Linked DNA regions of Homo sapiens. The protein of the gene in region 1 purifies or fractionates together with the protein of each later gene. This does not show direct contact. Each region holds a gene or a part of one and is shown in the gene's direction. Other genes may lie near its edges. The genes, in order: ZIC3, MYH10 and MYO1B.

What was found.
Region 2: the proteins of ZIC3 (region 1) and MYH10 purify together in Homo sapiens (affinity purification with mass spectrometry; one large-scale study listed by BioGRID and IntAct). This does not show direct contact.
Region 3: the proteins of ZIC3 (region 1) and MYO1B purify together in Homo sapiens (affinity purification with mass spectrometry; one large-scale study listed by BioGRID and IntAct). This does not show direct contact.

The regions. Positions count from the first base shown.
Region 1 is NC_000023.11:137,569,051-137,572,680, forward strand, and holds the end of ZIC3 (zinc finger protein ZIC 3), read left to right. Parts: coding exon 1-15; intron 16-840; coding exon 841-1,020; 3' UTR 1,021-3,052; downstream 3,053-3,630. UniProt on the Homo sapiens protein: Acts as a transcriptional activator. Required in the earliest stages in both axial midline development and left-right (LR) asymmetry specification. Binds to the minimal GLI-consensus sequence 5'-GGGTGGTC-3'.
Region 2 is NC_000017.11:8,620,643-8,624,296, reverse strand, and holds part of MYH10 (myosin-10), read left to right. Parts: intron 1-1,019; 5' UTR 1,020-1,050; coding exon 1,051-1,395; intron 1,396-3,654. UniProt on the Homo sapiens protein: Cellular myosin that appears to play a role in cytokinesis, cell shape, and specialized functions such as secretion and capping. Involved with LARP6 in the stabilization of type I collagen mRNAs for CO1A1 and CO1A2.
Region 3 is NC_000002.12:191,409,305-191,412,958, forward strand, and holds part of MYO1B (unconventional myosin-Ib), read left to right. Parts: intron 1-1,761; coding exon 1,762-1,868; intron 1,869-3,654. UniProt on the Homo sapiens protein: Motor protein that may participate in process critical to neuronal development and function such as cell migration, neurite outgrowth and vesicular transport.

The DNA.
Region 1 (3,630 bases):
CGCAAACACATGAAGGTAATTACCTCTTTATTAGCGGTCGGCGGTTTGTAAACACTCGGCCCGACGCCGGGCCGCGGAACGGAAGCGCCCGCGCTGCCAACCCTCTGTCTTCCACGTTAAATCCGATTTGCTCCAGCAGTGACACCTTGAACCCATTTTGGGGACCGGGCGGGGGTGGGGGTGAGGGGGTGGGCGGGAGTGAGCAAAGTTGGGAGGGGGAGGAAGCGGAGGGAACAATCGGTTGTTTACTGGGAAGCTCTAGCCGAGCTCGCCTGGGCTTGCGGGGCTGCCGTGGCCGCCTCTTCCCGACTCAGCCCGCGGTGGGAACCGAGAGTAGCCGCGCCGAACCCGAGGGTGGGTGGTTCATTCGCTCTTTGGCTTCGGATAAAACAATAGGGCCGAGGAGTGCAATCTGATTCCCACACATTTGTCTGCGACTTCGCAGCGCTCAGGGCCCCTGTGCCACCTTCTCTGTACCTGCTTTCTCAAGCCGAAACGGGCTTGGTGAAACCTGGGCCCGGAGTTAGTATTTTATAGGACCTCACAGTGTACTGCTTACCTCACTCCATCCGCGGAGAAAGCATTTTTGAAGTGGCATGACCAAAACGGAATGCTTTATTCCTTTTCCGTAACACCAGTCTTAGGAGCAAAACTGGTTTTTGGCGAACATCTCCGGGTTTTCTAGACATCGGTAATACGGATTTTTTTTAAGCAGCATTTTTCTTTTAAGTGGGTCACTGGGCGGTCTTGTTGTTACAGTGCTCGAATTCTGCTCTTGTTTTTGCTTGCACATTGCCAGTTGGAATTATATTCATTATAATATATACATGTTAATTTTAGGTTCATGAATCTCAAGGGTCAGATTCCTCCCCTGCTGCCAGTTCAGGCTATGAATCTTCCACTCCACCCGCTATAGCTTCTGCAAACAGTAAAGATACCACTAAAACCCCTTCTGCAGTTCAAACTAGCACCAGCCACAACCCTGGACTTCCTCCTAATTTTAACGAATGGTACGTCTGAGGACAAACACAAACCCTGTTAATTATAGAATGGACCAAATACATTTTTAAAAGAAAACTGAGACCAATCAGATGGAAATGGAGTTTTAAGGCAAGAGGCCATATATAGGGCTACATCTTGTTAATTGCAATTGTCCAGGAAGGTTTTGGGCAAGATCCAAAAGTAGCCATGCCCTTTTCTCAGGATAGAAAATATGTTTTGGCATTTGAAGCATTTTTTACAAAATCTTTACACTACTTTTTCTTCCCCTTCCTCTTGCTCTCTGCACACCCCATTCTTAAACTCCTCCAATTCATTTTAACACTTGTCCTGTTTCTTGAGAGGAAGTTATAGAAGGCTTGTTGGTGGTGGTGATGTTAAACTGATGGAAATTCTTTTTCGCCTTAGTGGTGATTGTTTAAACTCTCACAGTCTTAAACCGTGCCAAAGTCCTGTTATGTCTTGAACTTTTCCTCAAAGCATTACACTTGTGAATGTATTTTTGTCTAATAGGGTCGAAACTGTTGTTCAGTATTTTTTCAGGCTGAGGATGTGATGTTACTCTACACATTGTGACGTTTAGTATACAGTTGCCTTTTGTAATAACTTTTTTTTTGTAAATACATATCCATTGATGCCATATTTATCGTTTGTAATTTAATTATTGCTACAAGTGCCGGGAACTGAACAATATTTATGGATAAATGTTTTCTAACAAATTCTGTACAGCTTTTGATTATAACTGCTTTAGCATTAAAAATTGTTTTGAAAGAAGAACACAATTTACAATTTTGGAACCACTGACTCCTTTCTCTTGTTTTGTAACAGCCTTCTTCTACAAAGAGGAGATGTGAGCAAATTAAATCTTGTTTGTTGGTATTTATAACTCACTCAGATCCCTTTTTTAATTGTTAAATTATTTTTCTATTACAGTATAAATTCCTTACAGTGTCAGTTTCCATCTGGGAAGACTCTCCTTTCTTTATCTCTATCTCAGATGGTTGTTTAACTGCGAGTTTAAATGTGTTTGTCCTGGATTTTCGGCATGCAAATCAAATATTACTGATCAATTCAGTTAGTGGCCATGACATCTCAATCTTGTACTTCAAAGACTGAGAAGCTGGATTTAATCATCCCTGCCCTACATATATAAACATAAGGTAACCTACTGAATTTTATGTCCCTTAGTTCTTTATTACCTTACATAAAAATGAAAATTGCGGCAGGATGCATGTCTGTCTGTTCTATCTAGAGATCACCCATATACCTATATATGTTTGTATCTATGACTTATCTAATCTGCCTATCAATCTATCTAGTAGCTATCTATATATTTTCAAAAGATAGCTTATGTCTAAAACAGTGGTGATGAGTAAGGCCAGTTGAGCATTGCTTACTTATGGTTAAAGTGCTTCTTAAAAGAACCATAGTCCATTTACAATTTTGGAAGGCAAAGGCTGATTTGTTTGCTGTATATAGTTCAATTCATAATTATCGCAATTATCCATAACATTTATATAGCGGTGTAATAACTGCAGCAGTTCTGAAATGATGCTATGGGAAAAAAATTGCAAAATATGTATTTTTAAAGTTCATGATTTGTAGGCAAAGATGTTAAGAGCATTGTTTCCATTAAAATCAATAACAATGAAAAACGGTTGTTTGCTTTGTGATAAAATGTTAACAATCCATTTAATCTTCAGTGAAGCAACTCATTTGGACAAACAGTTCTTTTACAGTGGTTATATGGAAAAGAAATTGATTGCTATTTTGGGGGGCTGGAGTGGGTAGAGTATTGAGACCTTTTTTATTAGGGTGCTGTTTGTTATTGAGAGCCCAATCTCTGCATGAATAACAGAAAGGTGGACATAAGGAATTGTAAAGTATTTAGAATGTATTGAATAGGCTTAAGTACCTCCTTTAAGGGGCAATGCTCTAGGTTTTTGGTGGCAGTCAATTTGGTATTATATATGATCATTTTCAATTCTAGAATTTTGTTTATTGTTCTTTTTGAAGAAATAAAGTCTTGGCACATCTTATTTATGTTATAACATTTTTGTATTTGGTGCCTGATTTTTTTTCATGTTCAAATAAATCAATCTAAAATTGAAATGCTTACAGAACTTCTGATGATTAAAAGAAACTTTGATTCTGTGAATGCGGTTGAAGCAGTCTATTTAAGTTATCTACTGATCTTTGTCAACAGACAATTAGTTATTGACAGTTTCTAATTGCAAATTGCTTTGGAGGCTATTTTTTGTTAGTGGAGAATAATGGGGTCTTTTGCATTTTCTTCCACCAATATCCAAGCCTGAATGCCATGAACAGAGATTGGGATGACTACACATGTGATGAGCAGGTAACCTGGTCAGTCTATCACTCCCAACCCAGACATTCCGATCTTGACCTTGACATTGAGGGTGCTGGACCAGATTCCTATTTCAGGCTTTTTCCTTCACCTCAAACCAGAGACCATTTTAAATGCTCAGCAAGTTCTCAGAAAGTATATATTCATAAGACTGGCTCTAAGTGTGTTCCATTGTGAAATCTAAATAGTGTATTTTTCTTCTGAACTGTACAATGAACTTCCATAATTTACCACTTTCTCCATGAGTTCCCTCCCCCACCCTC
Region 2 (3,654 bases), on another chromosome or scaffold:
TTTGGTCCAGAAAGCCAGTGCACAAGTAGAGGAGGGGACATAGCTTAGCCACAAAGTGATGGAGCTTCCTCTGCTAGCCCTTTGTGAGCCAATGGTAAATGGGTGCTAAATAAAACAACTAGGTCTTGAGATACATTAATTGTAAATGTCACAGAACCAGTACTTTCCTCAATGTGGCTAAGATAGTTGATGGTTCCTTTTTCTTCTGCACTGGTCAGACCATATCTGGGCTATGATGTTTGCTTCTGGGCCACACACTTTAGAGGGAAGACAAGCAGCATGTTGGAGTCTGTTTAGGCGAGAGATCCGGCAGGGGAAGGAGTCTTGGTGAATGAGGGGTGGAGGAGCTGCAGGATGGGAATAGAGGCCTGAACTGCTACCATGACATATTCAAAAGGCTGCCGTGTGAAGCCAAGTTATGCTTGTCTTTTGTGGTCCCAGTTGATCACATTAAGACCTCATGGGGCCATAGAAAAGCTAGAGGGAGACTGATTTGGGTTATTCATAAGAAGAACTTTAAGTCTGTTATCTGAGGGTAGAATGAGAGGCATGTTTTAGATTCTTTAGATTCTTTACTCTTCTGACAATCATGTGTTTTTGTAGCTGTTTCCTTGTGGTCATATTAATTCTGGTACCACTTCATGAACCTTTTATTACCCATCTTTGTTTTCTTTTTTTTTTTCCCTTCTTAACTCCCTGTTTAATTTGTGGTGAGGGTGAAAGAGGAGATAAAGAAAAAAAAGGGTCAACTTGTAACTTTGCCTTTTCTTTTCTTTTCTTTTCTTTTTTTTGCCCTCAGTAACTGAGGGCAAACCCATCAGACAACCAGAGCCATAATTTGTGGTCACCGCTGAAATTTACCTTGGAAACTCGGTTAGTATGGCTGTGAAGAGGTATACCCCAGCTCCTTAACACAGAGTTAATGCTTAATCTAAGGTTTTAAGTTTCTTAGAAAAGAAAAACGTGTACATTCTTTTGTTTCTTAAACATCTAATTTTGCCCTCCTCCTCTTCTCTTAGAGGCAATTGCTTTTGGATCGTTCCATTTACAATGGCGCAGAGAACTGGACTCGAGGATCCAGAGAGGTATCTCTTTGTGGACAGGGCTGTCATCTACAACCCTGCCACTCAAGCTGATTGGACAGCTAAAAAGCTAGTGTGGATTCCATCAGAACGCCATGGTTTTGAGGCAGCTAGTATCAAAGAAGAACGGGGAGATGAAGTTATGGTGGAGTTGGCAGAGAATGGAAAGAAAGCAATGGTCAACAAAGATGATATTCAGAAGATGAACCCACCTAAGTTTTCCAAGGTGGAGGATATGGCAGAATTGACATGCTTGAATGAAGCTTCCGTTTTACATAATCTGAAGGATCGCTACTATTCAGGACTAATCTATGTAAGTATTTCTTCCAAATAATCATGTGAAGTGGTAGCTAGGAATTAATGTAAATTATACATCTTGTCATAATCAAATGAGAATGTGGAATACCCAAACTCTCTGTTTAACATTTCTATTTCTCTTTAAGATAGAAAGATTTGTTGCTTGCTTACCCATGTCTTGCTTTTCTTTGAATCTTAACACATTAAGTTTAAATAATACAGGCTGCAATTACATATAATAAAATGGCATTTGAAGACTTTTGTAGTGGTCTTCTGGAGCATAATAAGGTGGGAGAGAGCATGTAACAGGAAGACCAGAAGGTTTAATAAGGTAAAGAGAGTTGCATTAATTGGACGCAGACAGCAAAACGGTCAAAAATCAAGTGCATACCCAAGAGTAAAGTGGAGGGGCTGTAAGCTGAGAAATTTCTGTGGACAGCATGAACAGCTTCACTGGATGTAGTAGGGAAGTAGGAAAGATGAATGCTGAGGTTTTTAAGAGGAAACAATTAGGGTAAGATTGAGGCTGGCTGGGGTCGTCCTGTGGTTAGCAGCTGACATGAATGTTGGAGTCACCGACTTTGTCACTGACCATGTAGAAGAAGTTATTGAAAATCATAAGGGATAATGTAGAGAGGGATAATGTAGAGAGGAAAAATGTAAGCCAGATACTAAAAGAAAAATCTAAAATGACAAAATAGGTTTGAGGGAATGGTAGACAGAGGTGGCAATGATTTGAAGAAGGTGGCACGTGTGGGACTTAAACTGACGATGAAGGGAAGTAGGAAGAAAAGTTGATGGTCGTGGTTTGAAATCGGAAAAGGGGTGTTGAATTTTACACAAGGAGTGTGCTACTGAAGGTCATGAATAATTCAAAACTTCAGTAAATCAGAGCTAGTTTTCCTACAGAATTAGTTTAAGGAATATTTATTAAGCACCCCCTGTGCTCTAGGTGCTGGGGATAGTACAGTGAAGAAGACAGGCCAGGTCTCTCTGCCTTTCTGAAATGTCCAATGAGGAAATGAAACAAGGCTATGGAGAGAGTAAGTAGGAGAATGGCTTTCTCCAGCGGGTCAGTTAAGGGCTGTTTGTGAAGGTAGCATTTGAGCTGGAGTCTGACTGGTGGGAGGCAGCTAGCCACGAGAAAAGCTGAGAAAAGAATGATTCATTCATGACCTTTGCCAGAGTAGTTTCAACCAAGCCTGATAGATCTCCCTTATTTTCTTCTCTATGAGGTAGGAGAGTAAGAGGCCACAGGGTTGGAACGGTGGCTTGAGGAGAATGGAAAGGCTTAGGAACAACCCTTTTCCAATTTCAGACTAAGCCAGGGATAAGAAAGCGACTGGAGAGTGGCGTTGAGAGTCCAGCTGAGATTGAATAACCACGTGTAGGGTGACCGCAATTTTGCCTGGCTATGTGATTTTGCCAGACCATGGGATTGTCTCAGGTCTGTGAGTGTGGGGGGCTTTGGATCTGCATGGCTTCCACAGTGAGAGGGGGATTCAGTGGCCGTCTTTGGAGTCCTCGTTCGGTAGGAATGGGAGTCTGGGTGGGAGGGGCTGATGGATCAAGGCCTGGAAGTTTTCAGAATGTTGAGGAACAGGGATCATGGGGTGAAGGAGTGAGAAAACTGCAAAATTAAGAGGTTATGGTCAGATTGTAATGTCGACATGTAAGATTTGAGAGGTTGATCAGTTTCAGATGAAGCCCATTGCAATAAATTGTGCAGGTATGGAAATGTGATGTCACCATCAAAAACTGTGCAGTGTGAAGAGGAGCCAGGCTGCTTTTCTGCCAGCCTTCACCTTAATTTCCCACACTGGCAGCTGGAGGTAGCTGCAAAGGGTGCTAAGTAGAAAAGGAATGAAAGAAAGGACAGGTGTTTTTTTGTTGTTTTTGTTTTTGTTTTGCAGCCATTCCACATAATTCAGAGATTTTACAGTTATCTCTTACTGAGTTTGTTGGATTTTTTTCCAACTTAACTCATGGACAACCTGAGTGAACTTCTGAGTTTCTTTTCAAAGCACAGCCTCCTTCTACAGGAGAATCTGAGTTTTTCTCAAAGTCTCAAGGTCACACAGAGGTCGGGGTTTGGGAGGATCATATCTTCAATTAGTTGGGTGGAGAAAGGGTTCTTACCTAAGGTTCTAGTTGGAGAACTTGACTCCAAAGAAGTCTGTGTCGTTAAGAGGATGGGGATGGGGAGAGCCATGCTAGCATTGTGATAAATATGTATTGGGCTTTGGAATTAACCAGCCAGTTGGGATGATCAGTT
Region 3 (3,654 bases), on another chromosome or scaffold:
GTGATTTTCCCCCATGCACCATATTGAGTTTCTACGAGAGCCCCTGCAGCGGCCCAGGCGTTCCCTGTGCGGTCGCCTCTCGGCCCTGGCTGGAACGGGGAGCACAGGGCTGCATTTTCTTTCCATTCCAGGTTCCAGCTGCTCTCAAGTAGTTCAGTTTTTTGTTCATTTGTTTCTCTCTTTGTCTAAAGGAATACTGTAGGACAGAGAAATCATAAAATTTGGACACCTTCAGGCAACATAGTTAAATCCTGCAAATTGAAGAGTTTACTTTATCAGATGTACAGAACAGATAATCAGATAATACATGTGAACACACACACTTTGATGGGTGGGAAAAAAGGCTTTTTCCTGTCCCTAAAGATAGTAACACATTCTCTATCTAAATTACAGGGAAGCTGGAAATCTGTTTTATACTGCCTTTTATTTTAGCTCTCTTATTTTGTATAAGAGGACATGGCATGTAATTTAGATGTTGCCCAGCATGGAACACGTGGGGCACTTGTATAGATGTTGACCTTACTTCGATAACCTAGTCAGTTGATATGTGGAATGTTAAATATATGCAGTTATCAGATGTAATAAAATCATGAGATGGAAGGGCATGTATTTAGTAAATGAATGCTCAGTACACACATCCTCCAGGAAACTTTCCTGCCCAGCACGGTGGGCTTGTTTTTTTGTTAGAATCATCTATGTATAGAGTGACATTATTGCTGATTAGCTTGATAAGTGGTACCATACAACATAAGGAACTAGATTCTGAGTTCTGTTCTCTAACAGCAAATTTGGCGAGGTTCATGAACCTCTTAATGGCTTGTCTCCTTTCTTGAGTCTAACCCAGAAACTGTTTTCAGAAATAATGACAGGGAGCTCCCATTGCTGGGGATCTGCACCACCTCTGCCCTCCCCTGGCTTTGCAATCTCACCCATCCCTCCATTGGATTGGAGGTGGGAGATGAGGGCTGTTTATTCCTGAAGGGAGCCTTTCCATGGAAAGGGTCAGCAGCAATGCTCACACTTCTTCATGCAATTATTTCAGTAGCACTTGACCACACCTGTAACTGAATTTCTAGGAATGCTCATCTAAAAAACCTGGCCCTGCTCCTCTGGCCACTGTCTCCTCTCATTGCAGCTTCAGGGATGGAGTGAAAGGGGATATCTCAGGTCCCTCATCCCTATTGTAAAATGGTAGTGGGGGGATTTGGAGCAGTGGTTTTCAAACTGTCATAGCATATTTGTGGTCATGAAATCAATTTAGTGGATTACTACCAGCGTTTTTCAATAAAATGCAATAGAATAGAAAATAGCAGAGTGTACAATATATAGAAAGGATTGAGTATTGTTTTGTGACGCTTTTGTGTCAGTTTTCTCTGTATGTGTGTGGAAATGTGCTTAGTGGATTGTGATGCACAATATTTTTACTGTGAGTCTCTCTAGAAGAGTGACAGCCTCAGGACTAGAGGATTTCCAAGGATTGACATAGTGGGAGGAAATAGTACTTGCAAGGCCCGTGCCCACTAGGCCCTGGTGTGTTTTGAAGAAGCATTCCAGGTTCTGCAATACAAATAATACTCTGACGTTTTCCAAGACAAACTTTTTAAAACCCACAAGGGAAAAATGTTTTTGGCCTTTTTTAGTGAATGTTTTGTACTTTCTCCCTTATTCTTGTTGCTGATAAATTGTCTTAGCATATTTAAGAATGAGTAATAATTTATTTATATAAATGATGTTTTGTTTCTTTCTTCTCATATCTCACAGTGTAAAAAATACAGGGACCAATTCACAGACCAGCAGAAACTTATTTATGAAGAGAAACTAGAAGCCAGTGAACTCTTCAAAGACAAGAAGGCTTTATACCCATCTAGGTATTATGGCTTTGCTTTACCCATAAAATTCAGGATTATAAAAGTTTCTCAAGTATATTTGTACGCCGTTTTGCCTGGTGTTTGATTTCAGTCTTAGATGAGTGATTTTTAGTTCTGTGAATCATTTTATAATCAGCTTGATGTAAACACATTTATTTGAGCTATGGCTTCTATAGTGCAGTTTAATGAAATGAGGTTACGATTGTTGGTTTCACTCCATTAGCATTAGCTCAAACACTTTACTAAATAATTAGAAGTCATTTAACATAAAAATTATATAGGCTGTTAAGATACGTTTGCATTGTAAATTCCTGTTCCTTTTCCGTAGTTTTCAAAGACTAGCCAAATTTCTGTTGGCAATATACTTTAATCACCATTCCAGTCTTCCTGCCATAGCAAGCAAGGTCAGAAACTTATTTGTAAGGTAAATGAAAGAGCGAGCCAGGACAGTACTTTTTGAGTGTTGCTTGAGCACTGGTCTGTGGTGCCCTTTGGTCTGCTAACTCAACGGATATGACTTCTGTGGCCTGTACAGCACGTTCAGTTCCTTTATTTTAGACACCGTGGACTCAGAAAAAGAAGGAACACCAATCCCAAGTTCAGCAAGTGAAGTCCTTGGTAAAGACTGTTTATCCCAATAGTCTTACATCTCCTGCATTCATCACTTCCTCCCAGCAATCTAATCCCATTTTCATCTGGTGTTTATAAAAAAGTAGATTGTACAATTTCAAGCCAAATCTGTAACAACTTTAAGCTTCTTCCAATGAATGGCCAAAGAAAGAATGTATTATATGCTGAGTATATTCACATTTATTACGTAAATTATGTTTATATTCTCTGTGACTTTATACACATTTAAAATATCTTCCTTTTAAAGGATTAAAGGAATATACATTGCCAGACTCACTGGGTTTAAATATTTTAAATTGTACAACTTCATTGGTTAGCTGATGTGGCTACTTGAGGTGATACATACTCCCTTAAGTCAAACACAGTGTCTAAATCCAAAGTTGTCCAAAGTGCCTGTTATATAAAGCATATTCAAACAGGAGAATTTGTCTGTATGCTTGCTTCAGCAACTAATTTTATTCAGCTTTTTTTTTATACATTTTTAAATTAGGGAATAACCTTCTTAATGAACATTTCCTGTGGATGACTCTTCAGAAACTACAGGCTGGAAAATACATCTTTGAGGAAACAATTTAAAAGCCTGTTAGCATTTTTATAATTTAAAACACAGTTGAATAGGAACCAAAAAAAGTTAACTTCAAGCCAAGTCCTTTTTGGGTAGTCTTATCAGTTTTCAGGGATAGTGGCACACTCACCCCACAGCAGTGAGAGAGGTGGAATAATTTAGCCTCCCACCACCCTGCAAAGTGGCAGCTCTTATGGGAGTTGGCCTTTTATATCCTGAGAGCTGTGAAACGCTGACCACCTACGTGGATTTTTCTTCCCTTATCCTCCACCCACAACATAAGCATTTAAATTTGTATTTGCAAATTGCCAGAACTTTGTAGCTCAAAATGAAGCTTATAGATTCCTTGAAGCAGCAGTTTTTCCTTGGTGCCTTTGATGAACCTGTCCTGAAAGAGTCCCCCGACAAGTCTTTAGGGAAATTGATATCTTAGTGATAAGTGTACAGTTAACCTTTTACAAAAATTAGTTTGTTTGGGAAAAAAAAAATTGCCCTGATTCTGAATGTTTGCTTTGGTTACTTCTGTCCATTTAGAGGCATATTCTAGGAGAAGAGGCTTGATTCTCCTTTCATATACAGATGCTGCTTAAC